Homo sapiens: one gene and its partners. The protein of the gene in region 3 interacts with the protein of the main gene of each other region in a biochemical or structural test. Each region holds a gene or a part of one and is shown on either strand. Other genes may lie near its edges.

Region 1 (5,930 bases), on a different chromosome or scaffold from region 3:
AAGCAAAGGGTGAGATGAAATTGGTGTTTTTACCTGAAAAGGCTGTTAAAGGTTAAAATGACAAAATAAAATTCAGAGGGTTTGGAGGATTTGGTGTTTACGATTCCTCAAAGTGGGTGGAAGGTAGGGAAGAAAGAGAAAGGAAGAGAGAGAGAAAGATGCAAAGAGAGAGAGAAAGATGCAAAGAGAGGAGAGAAGCAGGAGAGTAGAAGAGAGGAGAGAAGCAGGAGAGTAGAAAAGAGGAGAGAAGAAGGAGGGAAGAATGAGGAAGGGGGCTGAGATATTTAGGATATAATGAAAGCACAGAAACAGGGCGGACAAGGGGCATAGAAGGGGGAGCAGGGCCATGGGGGAGAACAGTCCACCCAAAGGGTGATGCGGAGAAGATGGGCTGGCAGAAGCAGGACTGAAATGTTAAGGAGGGGAGGCCCAGAGAAAAGAAGCCAGGCCCATTCTTAAGACAGGCATGCCCCCCAGTGCCCCTAGGACTCAGAAGACACGCATCTTTCTTTCAGGATCTTTTATTAACGTATAGAAAATGTGTTTAAAAAAGGAACTATACAGAGGCTAAAAGCAACCAGGACTAAAAATACTAGTTAACAATGGTTAACAAGCAGAGATTCCAGTCTTTGAGCTACAGTGCCATGAAAGGATCAGAGAAGTTGGTTTTTCCTCTCCCTTCCTCTGTACATTTTTATTTTTATTTTAGCTAATTAAAGTGTGCATCGTCTGAGGAGTATGTACTCCATTTTCTTTTTTTTTTCTTCCTTCCAGTCTTTCTTTTAAGTAAGCGCTTTTTCAAGCTCATTGTAGCTACAAAGTCAATAAATTGGTCTTTGTTATTTTTACCTGAAAAGGCTGTTAAAGGTTAAAATGACAAACTCAAATTCAAAGGGATTGGAGGATTTGGTGTTTATGATTTCTCAGAACAACAATCTAGAGACCACCAGGGTGGGTTTCAGCTGCTCGGAGCCCCAGTTAATGACCCCCTCAGTGTCACAGTGATTTGCTTAGGGTACTTGGGCATCCCCATGGGCCTGGGGAGTATTCGAGGTTGGAATCATTAGATGTGTGTGTTTGTGCATGTGCACCTGTGTATGTGTGCATGCATGTGTGTGTGTGCATGTGTGTGTGTGTGTGTGTGTGTGTGTGTGTGTGAATGATTGGAAGGAGGAGCCTGTGTGTTAACCAAAATAGACTCACATAGATTCTAAACCTTGAGTCTGTGGGACCATGGTGTGAGTCTGGGCCTCCGCAGTTGGTAAAGGAGCACTTAGTTGGCCGACATTTTTGCAGGAATTGAAGTGTCTATTGCATCTAATGCACAGGTGTCACTGCTGCCCAAGCAGCCCCCACACTGGAATGGAACCAGTGTTCTGGGGTTCTTTCTTGGGGAGATCTATTCCTTTATATATAAACATCATTCAATTAAAGGGAAGGGGTTTATGTCTGGAGTTTTGGCCTGGCAGCTAAAAATACCAGGTTGCCAAGTACTGATTTCCTTCTAAATTCCCCAAAGTAGCAGAGAAAGCTGATATTGTAGCCAACTGTCTTCTGATGCCTTCCCACCCACTAGGGATGTGGGGCAGGTAAGGAGTGGGGAAAAGAAACCAGGGGGATAAGTAAACTGAATGTATCTCCTGCCTTCTAGCCTCATTCCCCAAATATTTCCACTGATGTACTCCCGCAGGGGACTGTGAAGGTGTTTGTACCCCTGGGAGTCTGGAAGGAGGTAGCCTAAATCAGTCTACAACCTGCTGGAGTTAGCCTCAAAATTTATAGGATATCTGCATTTGTGCTATCCATACTGGTTTGAATACACTAATAATATAATCCTTTCTTCCCAAATTCTGGAGTAAAATTGATGCTCTGAGAACATGTGCCATGTTTATTCTGTGGCTTCTCCTTCCTCAATCCTGGCTACACTGCCTGCTCCAGCTTGAAAAAAATGACTGGATATCCCACTCTTCTAATGTTGGGATGTTCCCAAAAGAGTGGGGTGGGGGGTATTGGGTTTATGTTCTGGTTCTTATCTTCCCCCTCTCATTCTGTTGGGGACCCTCTCCCTCGTCTACCAAATTTAAAAAGAAAGAAAAGGAAAGAGATGTCAGAATGTTTCTTATTCCCCATGATGATGAGATTGAGGGTCCCCTGGAGTACATGGCAAAAATAATGCAAGAATTTCCTTTTCTTAAAAGTCAGAAGAAGTGGCATCAAAGCCCCCTTGTAAGAATATTAGTAAAATCCAAGATGGTGGTCACTCAGCTAAATAAATATAAAGAGCAGCCTCATGAAGTGGAAAAATCAAGGGCTTCAAAATTAGACAAAGGTTCAGATTATGGCTCTATTTAGTAGCTGTGTGACTTTGAGCATGTTACTTAACCTTCCTGGCCCTCCCTTCCCTCTTCTATAAAATGGTTAAACCTGACTTAAAGTTTATGGTGAGGATTTAGTAAAGTAATATATGTAAAGCCCTTTGCACAGTATCTGGTAAATAGTGGGTATGCAATAAATGCTATTTATCTTAGTGTTCATTTGTGGAGAATCAAATTAAAAAGCCTATACCAGACCCGAACTCAGCTCTGTTACTAATTGCCTGTGTGAATGTGAGCAAATTGCCTAAACTTTCTTGCCCTTGGTTTCCTTGAGAGGAAATAAAATGAGAGGATTATATTAGATGATCTTGAGTCCCATCCAGCTCTGAAAGTGTATTTCCAACATTTGCCTGTTGGAGGCAGTGTTGAGCATATTAGTGCTCCATGTCAGAATATTAAAGAGCAACACAGGGTCTCCCTAGGGGCTGCTAAACCAGTGATGGGAAGAAAATAACAGTTCATGCATTCTTGTCCTTGTGTTCACTTACTGACAGTGCATCTGGACTGAAACCCTTTCTTGTGACCTAGGTGTTCTAGACCTGTTGGGTGTATGGCTTGCTTCTCAGGGAAGATGTTTGCACCACCTGACCTGAATCCATGGTGCCAGTGAGTGAGTGCCAGTACCCAGGAGAGCTGGCCTCATAAGGATAATAGAGTTAAATGTTTTTGAACTGGAACTTTAGCATTAGCCTGGCTTCATGGCCCAGACAATAAGGAGCTGTTTTATGAAGTTATCAGAGGGGGCTGAGTGTGTCTGAGGAACAAGAGCTGTGTTATTTGGATGCACTGCAAGAGCCTTATTAAGCTTGAGGAAGGAGAGAGGATTTCCCCTTTGGAGAAAATGCAACACTGTCCAAAGACTGTGAGGTTTGCCAAGGACATTTGGACAATGAAGTGCTGCAGGTGCAATGAAGTCATGTTTCAGGCAAAGATTGACCTTAAAAAAATAAACAGAATGCTGGAGATGACAAATCAGGCTTGTGACTACTGGTGACGCAAAAGTCAGATCCAGGCAGAACTGGTTGAGCAAAGAAAGAAAGTCCTTCTGCTTCTGGTTTTCGGTGCAGTGACAGGCCTTGGTGCCTTAGTTTCTCCTCAAGTTAAGTGGGTGAATGGCAGAAGCTCTGGTGGGAGGCTGGAGGCCAGAACGTGAGAAGCCAATGCTGCTTCCTCTCCCATGGCCGCTCCTGCCTTGTCTCTGCCTTTCAGTGTGGTGCCACCGGTAGAAGGCTTGTTTTGAATCTCCAATGATCCATCAGCTTCTTCTTAATTTTATATTTTTCTTCTTTCCACCTGTTTCTCAAGGCTTGATGAATGTAGAACTGGCATAAACAAATCCAGAGTGGATACAATTAGAAAGAACCAGAGACATTTTTTCAAATTGGACCTGAATCTACACCAATACATCATCTTAAAGCATATAGGAGTTACTTTCCCTGCTTGCTTTTGAAAGTTTTCATTTGGTCTGTGAGTTCTCATCTGGACTGGTAGTGTCCAAATGACCCAGTATTGTTGAAGAAAGCTTTATCACATATGTGTAGGATTGGGTTATGGAAGAAGCAAAGGTTTGAGGAGGCATTCAGCTAAACATCTTCAGGAATGTGGTCAAAGAGAGGCTACAGGAACAACCCCAGGGGCCAGCCTGTAACTCAGCTTTCTTTAGAGGATAGACCCTCTCTGTCATGGTAACCTGGATGAAAGCAGACCATCAGGGAAGTGAGGCAGAGCTGAGTATGCAGCTCCTGGCATCTGGGTGGGAGGCAGACTCCCAGACTTCACACATCTGCCCCATTCCTCTGAGGTCCTGAGACTCCTCCTGCAGCCGTGGCAAGTTTGAAGCAAGTGAAAACAAATTATCCCAACTTCTTTGGGATTATTGAAACTGAACTGAATTTTGAATCTTTCAGAGGTTTCTTAATAAAAATTTAAGAGTGGACAGTGAGATGCAAGGAAGGCGGAAAGTGTCCCCCAACCCCATGCCCTACCTCCTTGGAAGAAAAGACATGGAACTAAGAAATCAGATTGACTAGTATTCTGGTGATAAGAAAGCAAGCAGTAGAATACCATATATCCTGGGCATGTGGCCCCACCTTTCCTGAAATTCTGGGTGGAGGTTACAAAAAAGAAAAAGAAAAAGAAAAAATGTTTTCATGTCCCTAGGGTATTTGCAAATCCAGGTCACCAGCTAGTCTATTTCAACACCCATAGCTTGGTGTATCTAGTGTTCTTGCATGTTCTGTCTTTTCTCCAGAGGAGAGGACAAAGAGGAACTCATAAACTCTTTCCCAACTGATGCTTTTACAAGAGCTATTTGAAAAGATTCCACAATGACTTTTTGTCCCTTAATCTACAGCTCTGCTCTGAGACTGGATTTGAAAAGTAAAAATGTGATTAGGATTGTTTGGTTTGGCATTGAGGTTATTGGCAACCATGGTTCTTTAGGTCTGGCTTTGAAATATCAGGGTGCTGGTTGGTTCTCAGGTGGAAGGAAGCGGGGCATTAGGAGTCCTACCACTTTATGAGTAGTAGAGGGGGAAGTTGGTAGGTGAGGGACAGGTGGATTCAAATATTTGTAGATGTTTGCTTTGCATTTCCTTGCTGCCATATGTTGTTGTTGTTCTTTTACAAATCAATCTCCCATACAAATCAGCTGGCCGGTTTTCCTGAGTCCTGGTTTGGCTCTCCTGGAAACTTGGAGACGTGGCCTTTCTCAACCCCGCTGACGTTTCACACGGGGTTTCAGGAGGTGACTGCCACCTTGTGGCCACACTTAGCAAGTCCCCTTCCACCAGTTCACTGTGGTCTCAAGGCCAACAGTTTTCCACAGACTTGTCATTCTTGCCACCTCTTCTACACCTGACCCCTTCACCTTCCAGAAATAACCCTGGTGAATGTGCATCTGATATGTTGGAAATTATCTTTATATGTTGGGGAAATGCAAAAAAGGGAAACTGCCTGGACCTTGGGTCTAGACAGTGAATCTATTGCAGTCATTGGTGGTGGTTTTGGTTTTGGGTATTAGTACATATCCTGATGTGTCTGTAGTTAAACAGCCTCTGAGAAGGGTCTACCTCGATTCCTTTTGAGTCCCTTGAGGGAAACTGGTGTGCATAGGGTGGGTGCTTTGAGAGTATTGCTTACTGGATCTACCTTTGGGAAATGCAGTTGTGCTTGGAGGAGCAGGATAAGCAGGAATCAGCGAGGAAAGTTATGAGCATTGAGTCAAGTTGACCATAGACCTTGGGATGAGAGTGGGGCACAGTGTCTTTTAAACATGGTGAAAACTCATGAGAAAATCACCCTATTAAATAAAAGGAATCTATAAATCCTTTTATAGAGGGTTGAATAAGCTGATCTTTGAAGTCTCTTTCTTGCTTCAAAATAAAGCTATGCAATGCCGCTGGTACTATTTATAAAAATGTTCCATAGTGTAGAATGGTTTCAATAAAAGGAAGATTTTTGTTTCCACTGATGTTTCTTGACTTTCACCTGAATTGACAACACATAATCTTTTTCCATTTCAACTTCCTTGATGAAGTGGGCGTGCTGGCACCA
Region 2 (6,937 bases), on a different chromosome or scaffold from region 3:
AGCAGGAAGGACAGGAGACATGATTCAGTAGGCAAGACCGCGCAAGGGACACTTTCCTTAGCGCAGAGGGACGCCTCACGGAATTCCACCAAGCCTGGGGGTGGGGCTCAGATCTTGGGGTCCCTCAGAGGAAGTCAGGTGGCTCTGGAGACAACAGCCACGGCCATGGCACAGGAGAGGTGCTGTCCCATGCTCAGGGAGATCCCAGGGGAAATCAGCTATTTGTCCTCCCAGTCTGAGGACAAGGACGGACTTCCCCCACTCATGTCTCTAGTCCCTGGAGAAGAGGCCAGGGGAGTGAAGGAGTTGTATTTAGAGCTGGGGACCTGGGCTGCCTGCCAGGATCCAACAACCCTGCTATGAGAAAGGTGTCTACCCCCTTCAGCCCAGAACCTGAAGCCCCCTAACACACCTCATCTGCATCTCCCTCTGCCAGAACCCCATCCTGGGGTTCAATGTCCCCCAAGGCAGCTGGGGGCCATTTGGAGTGGATTCAAGTTAAAATGGCTTCAGCCATCCATGTATCCACTCAAGCAACATTCCAGGGGCACCTATGGAATAAAGACCCTGCCAGCAGCCCTGGGAAAACCACAGGGAACAGGACCCCAGCCTGCCTTTGAGGATGAATAAGCTGGGGTGCTATGATTGCAGCCTGCCCCCCACCTCAACTGAAGGGACTCACTGATGGCTGCGGGTCTCCGGGCAGCCCAGGGAGACCCTGGGGTGAAGTTACACAACTTTGGGGACCCATGCACCTCCACCCCCAATCCTGCCTTCAGATAAGGGCCTGAAAGAAAACCAGGGCAGGACCAGACAGGGAAGCAGCCCTGGGTCGCGAGCACTGTCCGTGGTGCTGGGGTCTCGCGGCTGCTTCCAATCGCGCCAGGAAACACCCAGCGGCCCGGAGGGCGGGACAGGGATGGGGTCGGAAGGGGCGAGGACCCTCCAGCGTTCCCAGTCAGGCCAGGGATTCAAGGCCTTCCCTGGAGGAGCAAGGCCCTTTCCAGAGACGCCTGCTTCCCGCCCTGCTTCCCATGGGCTCCCGACGCCCCCATCACCACCCACGGCCTGCACCAGCTCTCCGGGCCTCCCGGACCCCCGGACCGCAGAGGTCCAGCCTGACCCCTGCCGTCCCCTGGGGTTGCCTCCTCGGCCCAGCAGACAGGCCCGGTGTGCTGGGAGGCGGGCTCCAGGTGAGCCACCGTCTCCCCGCCCCCATCCCCGTCTGGAGCCGGCAGGGGGACCACAGTGGGGCTGGGCCGAGACCTGGAGGGCAAGAGTTCAGGGCCCCTGCAAGCTCCGCCTTCTCGGGCTCCTTCCCGCGCCCGGAGCCCACCTGTGGCCACGTCCCGAGTCCGGCCCCCGCGCCGGGGCGGTCACTCCCCCAGCTTCCTCGCTGCCCAGCTACCCACGGGGTGACACTCGGGCCCCGCCGGGCGTCCACTGGGCAGCGCCCCCTCCCCACCCCGCTGCGGGCCGGTTCCGCGGATGCCTGGGAGGAGAGGGGGCTGCCCCGGCACCGCTGGGCCCTGGGGGCCCCTGGCTGGGTCCAGTGAGTCCCGCGCGGCCCCAGCCCTGCCTGGCCTGGGCCCCCAGGTGTTGGCCGCCCGAAGCGTGTCGCCTTCGCCACCGCCCGCCCACCACGCTCCGCCGCAGCCTCGGCTCCAGCCGCCCCGTAGCCCTGCAGCGCCGCCCCTGCCCCCGCCTCTCCGACGCCTGCGATCGGGGGCGAATCCTGGGATGAGCGAGTCCTCGCTCTAATCTCGGGACCCTCTCGTCGGAGCCAGGCCCGAGCCCCGCGGGGAGGAGAGCAGTGCCACCAAAGGCTGGGGAGAGGGTGGCACAGGCGGAGGGGTTGGGGGGTAGCCGACCTAGGGGCAGACGGGCGGGACGGGAGGGACCGGAGGGGGAGCTCCAAGGCGCCGCACACTAACTTTGCCACCCGGATGGGACCGTCCGCGGGGTGAGGAAGGACCCTGAGGGGCTGGGAAGGGGCGCGCAGGCTGGGGCAACTTTCTGGGCCCAGGACCACGACCTGGGGGTTTTCTGCCCCCATTCTTACCTCTGCACCCCGAGTCCTCTCCAACCCTGCCCAACTCGGGACAGGTCCCCGAATAACACAACCCTCCCCATCCGCACCCCGAACCCCAACGCCATCCGTTCCCCCAGCCCAGCCCCACTGGTCATCACCAGGGGTTGAAGTGTGAACCGCCCCCTCTGCCACCAGGACTTGAACGTTCGCAGGAACCGACCTCGCCCACCTCCACCCGGCGCCCCCCTGGGGAAAAAACCAACCAGGAGGGAACTTTACCGAAAGGGTCTCAGGGTGACCAGGCATCTTCTGACCATTATCTTCCCATCGGGGTTGACGGTGATCATTGTTCAAACTTGTTGGTGCGAGCAGCCGCGGGCGAGGCCGGACGCACCGTCCTGGGCCCAGCTCTCGCCGCGTCCGGGCCACGAACCCTCTGCGGGCCGAAGCCGCGTCCGAGCGAAGCTGGGAGCGCGCGGCCCGGTGGCCTCGCTGCTCAGGCCTGGGCGTGCAGCGGAGGGAGCGGCGCGGCTGCCGGAGGGCGGCGAGGGCGCCCGGCCGGGCCGTCTCTGCGTCTCCGCCCTCCCCGCTTCACATTTTGGGGACCGGGAGGCGGCGCGCCCCCAGACCGCCGGCCGCGCGTCTGCCTGCTCGGGCTCGCTCGCTGGGCGGGAAGGTGCCGCGGCGCGCAGACGGGCTCCCCGCGGCGGGCGCCCTCATCCCCGGCCCCGCGCCCTCGGTGCCGGCTAAAGGCGGCCCCGGGCCCGCGCCCCGGTCCCCAGCGCCTCCGGGCCGCGCCGATCCTCAGCCCCGCGCCGCGCCGCGCCCATGGCTCTCGACGAGGGCAACCCGCGCCCGCCGCGCGCTCTCTCGCCCGCTGGCTCCGCCGCCCGCGCTCTGGTGTCCGGCGTCCGGCCCCGCGCGACGCTACGCCCGGAGGCGCCGCATTGTTCCTCGGAGGAGGCGGCCGAGCGGCGCTGGGGCGGCCCGGGAGCTGCAGCTGCGCTTCCAAGGCGCGCCGGCGCCACCTCGTGGCCGCAGCCCCGCTGTGCGCCCTGCCCGGGGCCGTGCGGGGCTGGGACGCCGAGGACCAGCTTCGAGGACGGGCGGGCGGGGGTCCCTGCTCCTTCCCCTGAGCCAAGCAGCTTCCCAGGGCGCCACCAGCCCCGAGGGCCGAAAGCTGCTTTGGCTCCCGCAGAGCACAGAAGAGATGCGCACCCAGCGGAGACCCTTCTCTTCTGCCAGGTGCCTCCGTGGGCTTCCTCATCAGCCGCTTCCCACGATTTCGCTTGGCAACACATGCCTATCTTCTGCCCCTCCCTGGTCAGAAACTCCCGTGGCTCCTCTTTGCTTACTGATCTGAGTATAAACTCGGCCTGTGGTGCTGGGGCCCGCTCACAGAGCCAGGCGCAGGGGCGTACTGAGTTGTAGCCCCAGATCCTCCACTAGCCAGTGGGCGATCAAGTGTGCACGTCTCAGAGTCTCCATTATGAAATGATAGTGACCAGAAGCTCACCAAGGTCCCTTGCAACCCTAAAGCATGTAGGATCTCATGTCGTCTCTTAGCATCTAGGCGTCCTCCCCTCCCCCTCCTCGTACTTCCTGGCTCTGGAGATGTGTTTGCAGTTGCAGAGACAGAGACTCCTGGGAGCTCGCAGAGCCAGCCTGAAGAAAGCTCTCCGGCTTCAAAAGCACTTCCCGAGGTCATATCTGACCACCCCACCCTGGGAAGTGCCCAAAGCCTCAGTCATGTGTCAAATGACTCTGAGGGTCTTCCCAGCTCAGGCCACGATGCTGCAGCCTGGCTTATGCGAGGAGGAGACTTTATTTTCCTCCAGCTGGGCCTGGTCCCCTCCAATCCCCCATACCCAGGCCCCTTGCTGCCTGCCCTGCCCACCTCCCGGCCCCCTTCCTGGGCCATTACTCACTGGCCATGACTCACGCTCTCTGCTTTGCTGCTCCTTCTTCATCAAAATTTACCGGTGCTGAGTTCCATTATCTCACTGCCTTGCTCTCTGCTAATGTGAAAATGGGTGATAAATTGGTGTTAGCAGATATAATGTGTTACACAGGCTAGGTAACAAATTTGCATTGAACAAGGACATGCTGACCGTGCCTTTGTGCAGAAGAGTGATGAATGGTGGCCGGAAATTTGGGCATCGTGGCAGGCTGGCTAAGGAGATGTTGGAGGGCAGAGGTCTCTGCCAGGCCTGTAAATCACATCTCATGCCTGGGTGCCTACATCTGCCACAAATCCTGGCAATAAGCCATATCTACACTAAGGAATGAAATGGTCCTTCTGATTAGGTGTCTCTCTTCTGATTGGGGGTTCTTCTGATTGAGTAGGCTTAGGGGGTGGCATTTATATCTGGTTGCCATTTTAGGCCAAAGGGGAAGCCTCTTCCTCAGTGGTGGAGATGGGGTTCCCTAGAAGGCATGGCCACCTCTGGTGTGGGTCATCTGGGGAGGTGGCCTACCCTCCACAGAAGCCAGAATTTAGAAGGTAGGGGAAGGTACTCCCCTCTTCCCCTGGGCCACACACCCTTAGATCTGGACTTTGAAGTTGGAGCGGGAAAGCCTCTCTGCCATTTGACGGCTGGCTTGGGCCAGGGAGGGAAGCAAGCAGAGGACAGCCAGTGACTTTTTTTTTTTTTTTTTTTTTTTTTTGAGATGGAGTCTCGCTCTGTTTCCCAGGCTGGAGTACAGTGGCGCAATCTCGGCTCACTGCAAACTCCGCCTTTTGGGTTCAAGAGATTCTTCTGCCTCAGCCTCTTGAGTAGCTGGGATTACAGGCACGTGCCACGATACCTGTAATAAATGCCTATAAAAATGCAAAATTTTTGTATTTTTAGTAGAGACAGGTTTCGCCATGTTGGCCAGGCTGCTCTCAAACTCCTGACCTCAAGTGATCCGCTTGCCTCGGCCTCCCAAAGTGCTGGTATTACAGGCATGAGCCACTATGCTGGGCCAGCCAGTGGCATTTTGCAAGCCAGATTGTCCAGCTGCCTGTCCCTTTTGAAGTCTGTCCCCTTTTTTTGGCCTCTTGTCTGCAGTAAAGTTCAGTGTAAACAGTCCTGCTTGCTCTCCACTGTGCTGTAGGCATTAGGAGAAAAACTGTGAATCCCACATCATGCAGTCTTGGGTATAACCTCTTCATGCCTCAGTTTCCTCAACTATAAGTGGGGCTCCTTATAACCTGCTTCATAGAGCTGTTCTGAGGATTGAGCCGCTTAATGCAGGTAAGTAGCCCGTTGCCAGGACCTCCTGAGCCTTTCAAGCATGGTGGTTCTGATGGTTGTTACTGTCCGTCAGGAACAGATGCTGTTTGTGCCCAGTCCTGGTTCCCACTGCAGTCACCTCTGCAAGCTAAGAGGCAGATGACTGAGAACACCTTCAACTCTCTGCCTGAGGACTTTTTTTTAATGGCTGTGGGAATATGCTAGAACACAAAAGGGCAAGAAGAAAGGACCCTGGACAAAGGATCAACACCCTGGCAGCAGCCCTCAAGCAGTGGATAGACACCCCCACTCCCTCTTCCTAAGGGGGATACTCCGCGGCGTGTTACCCCGTGGCTCCCCAGGTTCCCAGCAAGTTTGAGCTCCAGTCACCCGTGGTGTAGCCAGCCCTGTGATGCCCCTGTGTTCACTCCCTTCCCTCCTGTCTCATTCCACTCCCCGGTCAATGTTCCTGGGGTCACCATCCAAATAAACCACTTGCAGAATCCTATTCTGAGCATCTGTTTCTGGGGGACCCACACCAAGATCCCAAGATCCTGCCTCATCGACTGGTGGTTCTCAGCCCAGATTCCAGCAGAATCACCTGCAGAATTTAGCAAAATTGTCCTTATTCTGATCCAGTACCTGAGGTGCAGCCTGGGCACGCTGGTGCATTGATGCCACAGGTTATGCCGACACAGGCAAGGTGGGGAAGCACTGTTCTAGACAAATACTTGTGGCCTCCTGAGGAGAAAGGAAAGTCTCTGGAAGCAAGCCAGAGAACAGGGGAGTAGGAACGGCGGCACCTGCTGCAGGGCCCGGCCAAGGACTGACGGTGGGCCAGGCGCCGTGACTCACGCCCGTAATCCCAGCACTTTGGGAGTCTAAGGCAGAAGGAATGCCTAAGCCAAGAGCTTGAGACAACCAGCCTGAGCAACATAGTGAGACCCCATCTCTACCAAAAACTTTAAAACTTATCCAGGTGTGGTGTCATGCACCTGTAGTCCCAGCTACGCAGGAAGCTGAGGCAGGAGGATCACTTGAGCCCAGGAGATCGAGGCCGCAGTAAGCTATGAGCGCACCACCGCACTCCAGCCTGTGTGACAGTGCGACGCCCTGTCTCTTATAAAATAATAAATAAATAAGGACTGACATCAGGTGTACCCATTTCCAAACCCCATCCCTCTTCACTGTTTCTCTCCTGAAGCTATCAACAGACCCACAACCAGCCAAATGCAGAGCAGGATGCACATTCACCCGGGTGCCCTAAATATAGCAGTTCCTGGCAGGGCGCGGTGGCTCATGCCTGTAATCTCACCACTTTGGGAGGCCAAGGCGAGTGGATCACAAGGTCAGGCATTCGAGACCAGCCTGGCTAACATAGTGAAACCCCGTCTCTACTAAAAATACAAAAAATTAGTTGGGTCTGGTGGCGGGTGACTGTAATCCCAGCTACTCAGGAGACTGAGGCAGGAGAATCGCTTGAACCTGGGAGATGGAGGCTGCAGTGAGCTGAGATCACACCACTGCACTCTAGCCTGGACCACAGTGCAAGACTCCGTCTCAAAAAAAAAAAAAAAAAAAAAAAAAGCCAGGTGCGGTGGCTCACGCCTATAATCCCAGCACTTTAGGAGGCCGAGGTGGGCAGATCATGAGGTCAGGAGTTCGAGACTAGCCTGACCAACATGGT
Region 3 (7,028 bases):
TCAGTTTTGTATTTACTCATGTGACCTGGATCAAATAATCTAGTATCTTTGGGTGTCAGTGTACTCATTTATAAATTGTGGATACTAATATTTGCCTTATCTATAGTATTTTAAAGAACACATCCTGTAAATTGTTCTGCATTCTAGAAATACACCATAAAATCTTAAGTTTCAGAGCTAGTCTGCATGCATTTGATAAAGGGATATATTCAATTATTGGATAAGACAGATTACATATGATTTTATAGATACAGTTTTAAAAATAGGCCAGAATTTTCCCCTAATCTTGTTTGATCTTATTTACTTCACTAATTATGTTACTTGATAATGTTGGATGTCATATTCATATTGTTTTATCCTAATTAGTGGGAGAACACACTCTTGATAATTAAATAAAACTAATTAGTGCACTGAAGAGAAATTTGCTAAGCTTTAGTCAATAATTTTAGGTTTAGCATCTCATTATATATATCCTTCTATAATAGCATAGTCTAGCAAGAACGTATCAATGTCACTACCTGGTAAGACAGATAGATGGATTCCTGATATTTTCTTTTAACATAAATCTAATGAAAACTAAAAAGCAGCTACTATAATTGAGAACAGATAACAGTTCATATATATGACAGCACTAATGACTATAGTGACCTATGGATTCATTATTCATTCTCACATATCAGCATTTAAGTGTTTAAAATGCAATGTTAAATAGGTATCAATTCAGAATACAGAAAAAGTTTTCTATCAAAATGTACAAACTTTTAATTGCTGCTGCACTGAAGAAAAAATATACAACTAATTAAAAAGATGAAATCGCAAAGAGGAAAAATATTCTAATGAGACTGATGTCTATGTTCTGGATTACAAATATTCACTTTTATACAATGAGTGCATTTTGTTACATTAGCCTATCATTTAACTTGATGTTAAGATTTAAATAGTTTCATTATTAAACTTTAAGATACGTTCACATTTAATAAAAGCAAATTATAAAATTCTTATGACCAATTCAATGAAAGTATTACTTTTCTATACTTAATAGGATTGAACTTCCCTCTTCTTTCCATTGGCATTTAAAGCAGACATCTGTATTATAAACACTGCACATAATCTGCTCTAAGAAACATCTGGTCAGTAAGCTAATTTGCATAAAATACATTCACAAATGAAATTCATTTCTACAGAAAAATGTTTAGTGTTTTACATCTTGTGATACAATACCTATACATACTGTACATATTAATGCCCATTATTTAACTTAAAAAAGTGTGTAACAGCAGGCATAAAGTAAAATGTATTTTGATGGTTTACACTGCCCTCTTTAGGCAACATTAAGATAAAGAAAGACAAAAAAATTAAAATTTTTTTTAACTTCATTATTAACTCTCAAAACTTAGTAATAAAACTAAATAAATAAATAAATACATAAATACCTCCCTGGCCTGGTGCAGTGGCTCACGCCTGTAATCCCAACATTTTGGGAGGCCGAGGCGGGTGGATCACGAGGTCAGGAGATCAAGACCATCCTGGCTAACATGGTGAAACCCCGTCTTTACTAAAAATACACAAAATTAGCCTGGCGTGGTGGTGGGCGCCTGTAGTCTCAGCTACTCGGGAGGCTGAGGCAGGAGAATGGCGTGAACCTGGGAGGCGGAGCTTGTAGTAAGCCGAGATTGCACCACTGCACTCCAGCCTGGGCGACAGAGCGAGACTCCGTCTCAAAATTAATTAATTAATTAATTAAATAATAATAATAAATAAAGCTCCCCAAGCTGATATGAATGTGGAAATTAACTAATTCCTTTCTACAGGGGTGTGTCAGAGAGAAGTGCTTATGTCACATTACTCTCAGATTTAATAATTCATTTTATAATTAAATAGAATTAGTTTACAACTTATTTTAGAACAAAAGTATGAAAATTAAAATCATCTAAAATAGCATACTCTGATCTTGCTTTAAAAGCAGTGTACTAAAAATGTATTATGCAAACAGAATTGCCCCCACCCATAAAAGACATCCTGTAGAGTATGAAATATTGACAATAAATAAAAATTGTTTTGTCTATTTTGGAGAGAATTAAATTAAAAACCAAAATGTGTTAAATAATTGTTTGAAATAATAAATAAAATTATACTTCAGAAACTGGAGACTGATTTGTTGAATGTTTTGATTTTAAAAATGATGATGTACCATTTTACCAAATTTCTATCTTTCTATAATTTTCATTTTACTTTTAGAGCAAGCAAACCACCACACCTCAATCTGTCCTTCTGATCCGTAACTAACCTGCCTCTGAAACGTGGAACACTTCTGAGTTCTCGCTAGTAACAGATGATGTTGGGGACTGTGGGAATCCAGGAGTTATTTCTGAGTCACCTGCTGCCAGGATCCCATCAGCATCTTTTTCATTAGTGTCTGCAAAACTGAAATCTGTGGAAGTCTCATTCTCATTAAGGCTATCTGAGGTACCTTGCCCTGATCCACTTTCTTCATCACTTGTCAGAACTGCCCATGCTTTAGATTCAGGGCTGAGAGGAAGCAGAGCACTACCAGTCTGAATGTCATTTTCCTCTTTTCCATCATTGTGCTTTTGGGATAGCCCATTTGCTGATGGTGATTTACCAGGACTTCTGTCCATACCAGTTTGACTGTCTGAGGATACACTTGTGACTCTATTATCTTCTTCAGAATTCTCAGATAGTGAGTATGAGATTGGATTATTCTGATCCATAAGACTGTTTTCGTGGGTGTCTGAATCATTCATTACCTTTTCCTGTGATTCTCTATAGGATGAGCATGACATACACTTATGAATGGATAAGCCATCACTACCTCTGTCATCATCATCATCATCACCATCATCATCAGTGTCACCATCTTCACCACCACCCACTAAACCGGCATCAGATTTGGCACTATGACTCAGCTCAGAAGTTGCCTTAGAAGGAAACAGCAACTTTGTTGAGGTTACAGAACCATCTCTGTGGGGAGAAACAGCTGTAATGGCAACATGCCCATTTCCTATAGGAACAGAATGATCAGTAGATACAAATGTATCAGAAGCAACTGTTGGAATACCAGCAAATACCTTACCAGTAACAGAACTTTTGGTGGAGGTTAAAATTTCATCGGAATGTATAAGCTTATTTATTAGTGTATTTAATGGTTCATCAATTGATAAAACAGGTGTAGCAAATACATGCCTTCCTTTTGGGGGATGGGCCTGGTTAATCTCCAAATTGGCCGTTTGGAACAACTCATCATTACTGTACAAAGAAGGTACCACTTGGTGGGAACTTTCACTTTTTAACAAAACTGGTTCATATTTCTCACTTGCATAGGAAATGGTCAAACCTTGAAGTGAAGCAGAGTGCATATGAGAAGTAGGCGACACATCAAAAACTGGTACAGATGTAGAGTGCAGCATGTTTTCACTTGAAGCAGAATTTGATACAATGAGATGCAACATTGTAGAACTAATTTTATCAACTTTGGGGGTTTCAACCAATATTGGATCACTGGGCACAGCTGGAAGAACAGTTTTAAGCAAGGTGTCAACATCAGAAGCCTGAAAGGAAGGTTGTAGCAATACTTCAGTACTAAAAGAAGCTGAGGTCTCATAAAATAAGAGCTGAGTTGAAGGAGATAACATTTCACTAGAAGCAGGGTCAGAGGATGCTGGCTCTGAGTTTGCACTAAGCACAGGTTTAAGCGAAGTGTCACCAGATGCTTGAGAGACAGTATGTGTAGGTTGAACTGAAAAGTTATTTTCTGGAACTTGACTAATCTCATGATCAAAAACCTTAGTGGTGGTATGAGCAAGGGACCCTGGAAACATGCCCTTGGTGCTAGAAATGGAAACAGAGGTTTCTTGTAAAGACGCATTCAACTTATTTACATTATCATACATGTTGGGCATGACTGTGCTTTCAGAAGGGTAAACCATCTCATTGAAAGAAGGAATTTGCAGTTCAGTCTCATTTCCATATATTATTTCACTTTTAGAAAGCGCCTTATTATCATCACCAAACACAGATGTTGTATATGTAAATTCAGCTACAGAAACAGGTGAAGAAATGTTAAGGGCTGTCAGCCCATCTGTGTCAGGTAAAAGAAATTCACTATCAGAAGAGGCTCCAGACCATTCCCCATCACCAGAGAGGGCATGAGTAGGCTGCAGTAATGATGCAGTTGGGGTTATTAACGAAGACTTAGGTATTGGTATATGGCTAGGGCCGCTAAATAAGGAACCCTGATAAGTTACACCCACAGAATCATGCACAGGTATTGCAGAACTGTAAGAAACAGTGAAGATGTGTTGGGAGCCCTCATTATCAGACAAGGCATAAGAAGGTTCAGGCCCTGAAGAACGTGCATGCATCATGGCATCACTGCTGGGTGGTTCAACTTGAGAAAACATAAGCGTTTTATAAAGAACACCAGATTCACTACCAAATTCCAGCGTCTCTGAAGCAGCATGAGTAGTGGACAGCACATCAGAATACTGAGCAAGGCTGGGCTCTAATAGCAAATCACCCCCAGCCACTGGCAGAGAAGCATGCAAGGGCACCTTATCACTCTCGGTAGCTGAAGTAACTTGTGGAAGGATTTGAGAAACTGTATGCAGATGGCGAAACAATTCACTACTGAAGGAAGCAGAGGAAAATGGAAGCAAAGGTGCACCATCATAGGAAGACAGGATGGATTCAAATGACACATCGACACTGGGAAATACAGGCGTAGCATGCAAGGCCGAATCACTACTTGAAGCAGCAGGGGTAGTGTTGAGGATCTGATTGTCAAGCAACAAAGGGGTGACTAGAGGAAAGACTTCACTACTGTAGGAAGGTTGAAGAGGTGTCTCACCATTGTATACCGGTTGGGTTGTCTGCGAGTATACCACGTTGACCGTGGAGACCAAATCCTGTTGTCTGGAGGATGGGGTAAAAGCATGAGGTGTTACCTCAGTTGGGAAGTAGGCAAAGGTAGAATAATGTGGCATTTCCAGATCTGTAACTGAGGGACCCTGTGACATCACTGGGCCTGCAGAAAAGGACTTGGTTGTCTTCTCAGATTCATCAACACGTATCTCAGTGTAATTAGTCTGGAGAAAGCTCTCTCTGCCTGATCCAACATCGGGCTGTGCTGTTATGTCTGTAGAGCTAGGAAACCACACATTTCCCTCCATAGAAGGATCCTTTAGTGATTCTTCTGAACCTGATGAAGTTGAATCTTCGGAAGCATTTCTAGCAGATTCTGGTATAAGGACATCATATGTTATTGTCTCTGGGTTTTCGGAGGAAAATATATACCCTTGGGATATGTTCTCAGAGATGAATGGGATAGCAGAAGTTGCGGGACTGGAGCCTGAAGAATCTTCAGCTCCAGTATCAAGCTTGAAACTGGTCAATAAACTCTCCTCCTCATATTCTGTTATAGAAACTGTATTTAAGGATTCTGCAGTCCCCGACAAGTTCATATGTGGAGATCTAAGAACAGTTTTAGAGCCATCATTTAAAGAGGCTGAAGTACCTTCCACAGTGTGAGGTGGCAGTTCAGTCACAGTCTGAGAAGTCAAGGAAATATCTTTTTCTGTGGCTAATTTAGTGACTGGTTGGGAAGTGGAATTTAAAGATGTATTGGGAACATCACCCTTTCCAGAGAATTCACTTCCTCTTGTTGGGGATCGGTTAGTCTTGGCTTCATTGTATTTCGTCCCTATGCGATTGTAGTGTGTTGTGGTAGAAATCTGGGGTTCCTTTTTCCTGATTTGGTTTGTAGCACTGTCTCTACCAGGATTCACAATAGCGCCTTCTTCAATGTCTTTTCCCTCTTCCTCCTCCTTTGAAAAGCAAACAAGATTTAATGAGTCATAAGGAAATAAGAGAAAAAGAAAATCTTCATATCTTACACTGCCAATCATCACTTGTGGTATCTTGGGAACTTCTCATCCTCATAAAACACCATTCTGTACAATGCATACCTCTAACCTACAACCTTTACCATCCGCTCTACAGGGGAGTAATTAAACGTAATGAAAACACCTAATTTATGGCCGCCTTTATTTTAATGCTATGGAAAGAAGTGGTTAAATGAATAGATACCACATATTTAAAAGGAAGACACACTGTAGTTATTTATTGACAGTGTTATTTAACATGGCATTTATTTTATTGTTTTTATATTTCTTTGTTCATCAGGCATCAAGGTAAATAGCCATTAGCTTATTGTAATAAGAATTGGCGATGAAACTATTTTAAAGACCAAAGTAGTTGAACATTCAGAATATTTAATTATATCTATTTAGAGCAAATCATAATTTTAAGGTCATAATAAGGGGAAGATTTAGAACTAAAAGAGGTGTTTGGTTTTCTTTTCCTTTTGTTTTTTAATATTTTCCACTTAAGACTTAGGCAGATATTTCAAAGGCAACTTGTCAATATATGATTCTACTCCTAGTTTTTTAATTTTGTGTTTCCCTTAGAATCACCATTCAGGAGGCTGAATCTTCCATGCAATGACCCAGGAGGAGACGTCTAGTCTTCTAGCTAGAAGTTAACCAAGACCTATGCTTTAAGCATAATCTTCATTGCATGGAAGATTCAATATATGTATATATATACATATACGTATATATACATAAAACTGGGTATATTATATCTAATTATATACTTAGAAAACTCAATTGCCAAAGTTATCAAGTTTTTTTTTTTTTTTTAGTTCATGTGGGACATGATTTTGTCAGTATCTTTGTACCCAACAGCTTGTTAGAATTGTCATTTATTTGATCATCTATTAGATATTTTAAGGCCATGTTCCTTAAAAGAAAAAAATTACTGAGTACAGCCATTGAGAACTTGACCAGTATCAGTAGAAAGAATCTGAATCTTAAGCTGTGTGTGCTCATGAGCATGTGTCATACACACGGAAATCTGCACTGTATGAAACACACGATTCCAAGCTTAATGGCTGCCTCATTATTTACAGCTTAATTATTTGGCTGGTCGTGAGTATCTTCTGAAGCATA

What was found.
Region 1: the proteins of PTPRZ1 (region 3) and TNR form a complex in vitro, tested with the Homo sapiens proteins (one study listed by BioGRID).
Region 2: of the proteins of PTPRZ1 (region 3) and MGAT5B, one has a biochemical effect on the other in vitro, tested with the Homo sapiens proteins (one study listed by BioGRID).

Annotation. Positions count from the first base shown.
Region 1 is NC_000001.11:175,314,689-175,320,618, forward strand, and holds the end of TNR (tenascin-R isoform 1 precursor), read right to left. Parts: 3' UTR 506-5,930; downstream 1-505. UniProt on the Homo sapiens protein: Neural extracellular matrix (ECM) protein involved in interactions with different cells and matrix components.
Region 2 is NC_000017.11:76,864,472-76,871,408, reverse strand, and holds the start of MGAT5B (alpha-1,6-mannosylglycoprotein 6-beta-N-acetylglucosaminyltransferase B), read right to left. Parts: upstream 3,006-6,937; 5' UTR 2,380-3,005; coding exon 2,312-2,379; intron 1-2,311. UniProt on the Homo sapiens protein: Glycosyltransferase that acts on alpha-linked mannose of N-glycans and O-mannosyl glycans.
Region 3 is NC_000007.14:122,009,149-122,016,176, reverse strand, and holds part of PTPRZ1 (receptor-type tyrosine-protein phosphatase zeta isoform 1 precursor), read right to left. Parts: intron 5,844-7,028; coding exon 2,288-5,843; intron 1-2,287. UniProt on the Homo sapiens protein: Protein tyrosine phosphatase that negatively regulates oligodendrocyte precursor proliferation in the embryonic spinal cord. Required for normal differentiation of the precursor cells into mature, fully myelinating oligodendrocytes.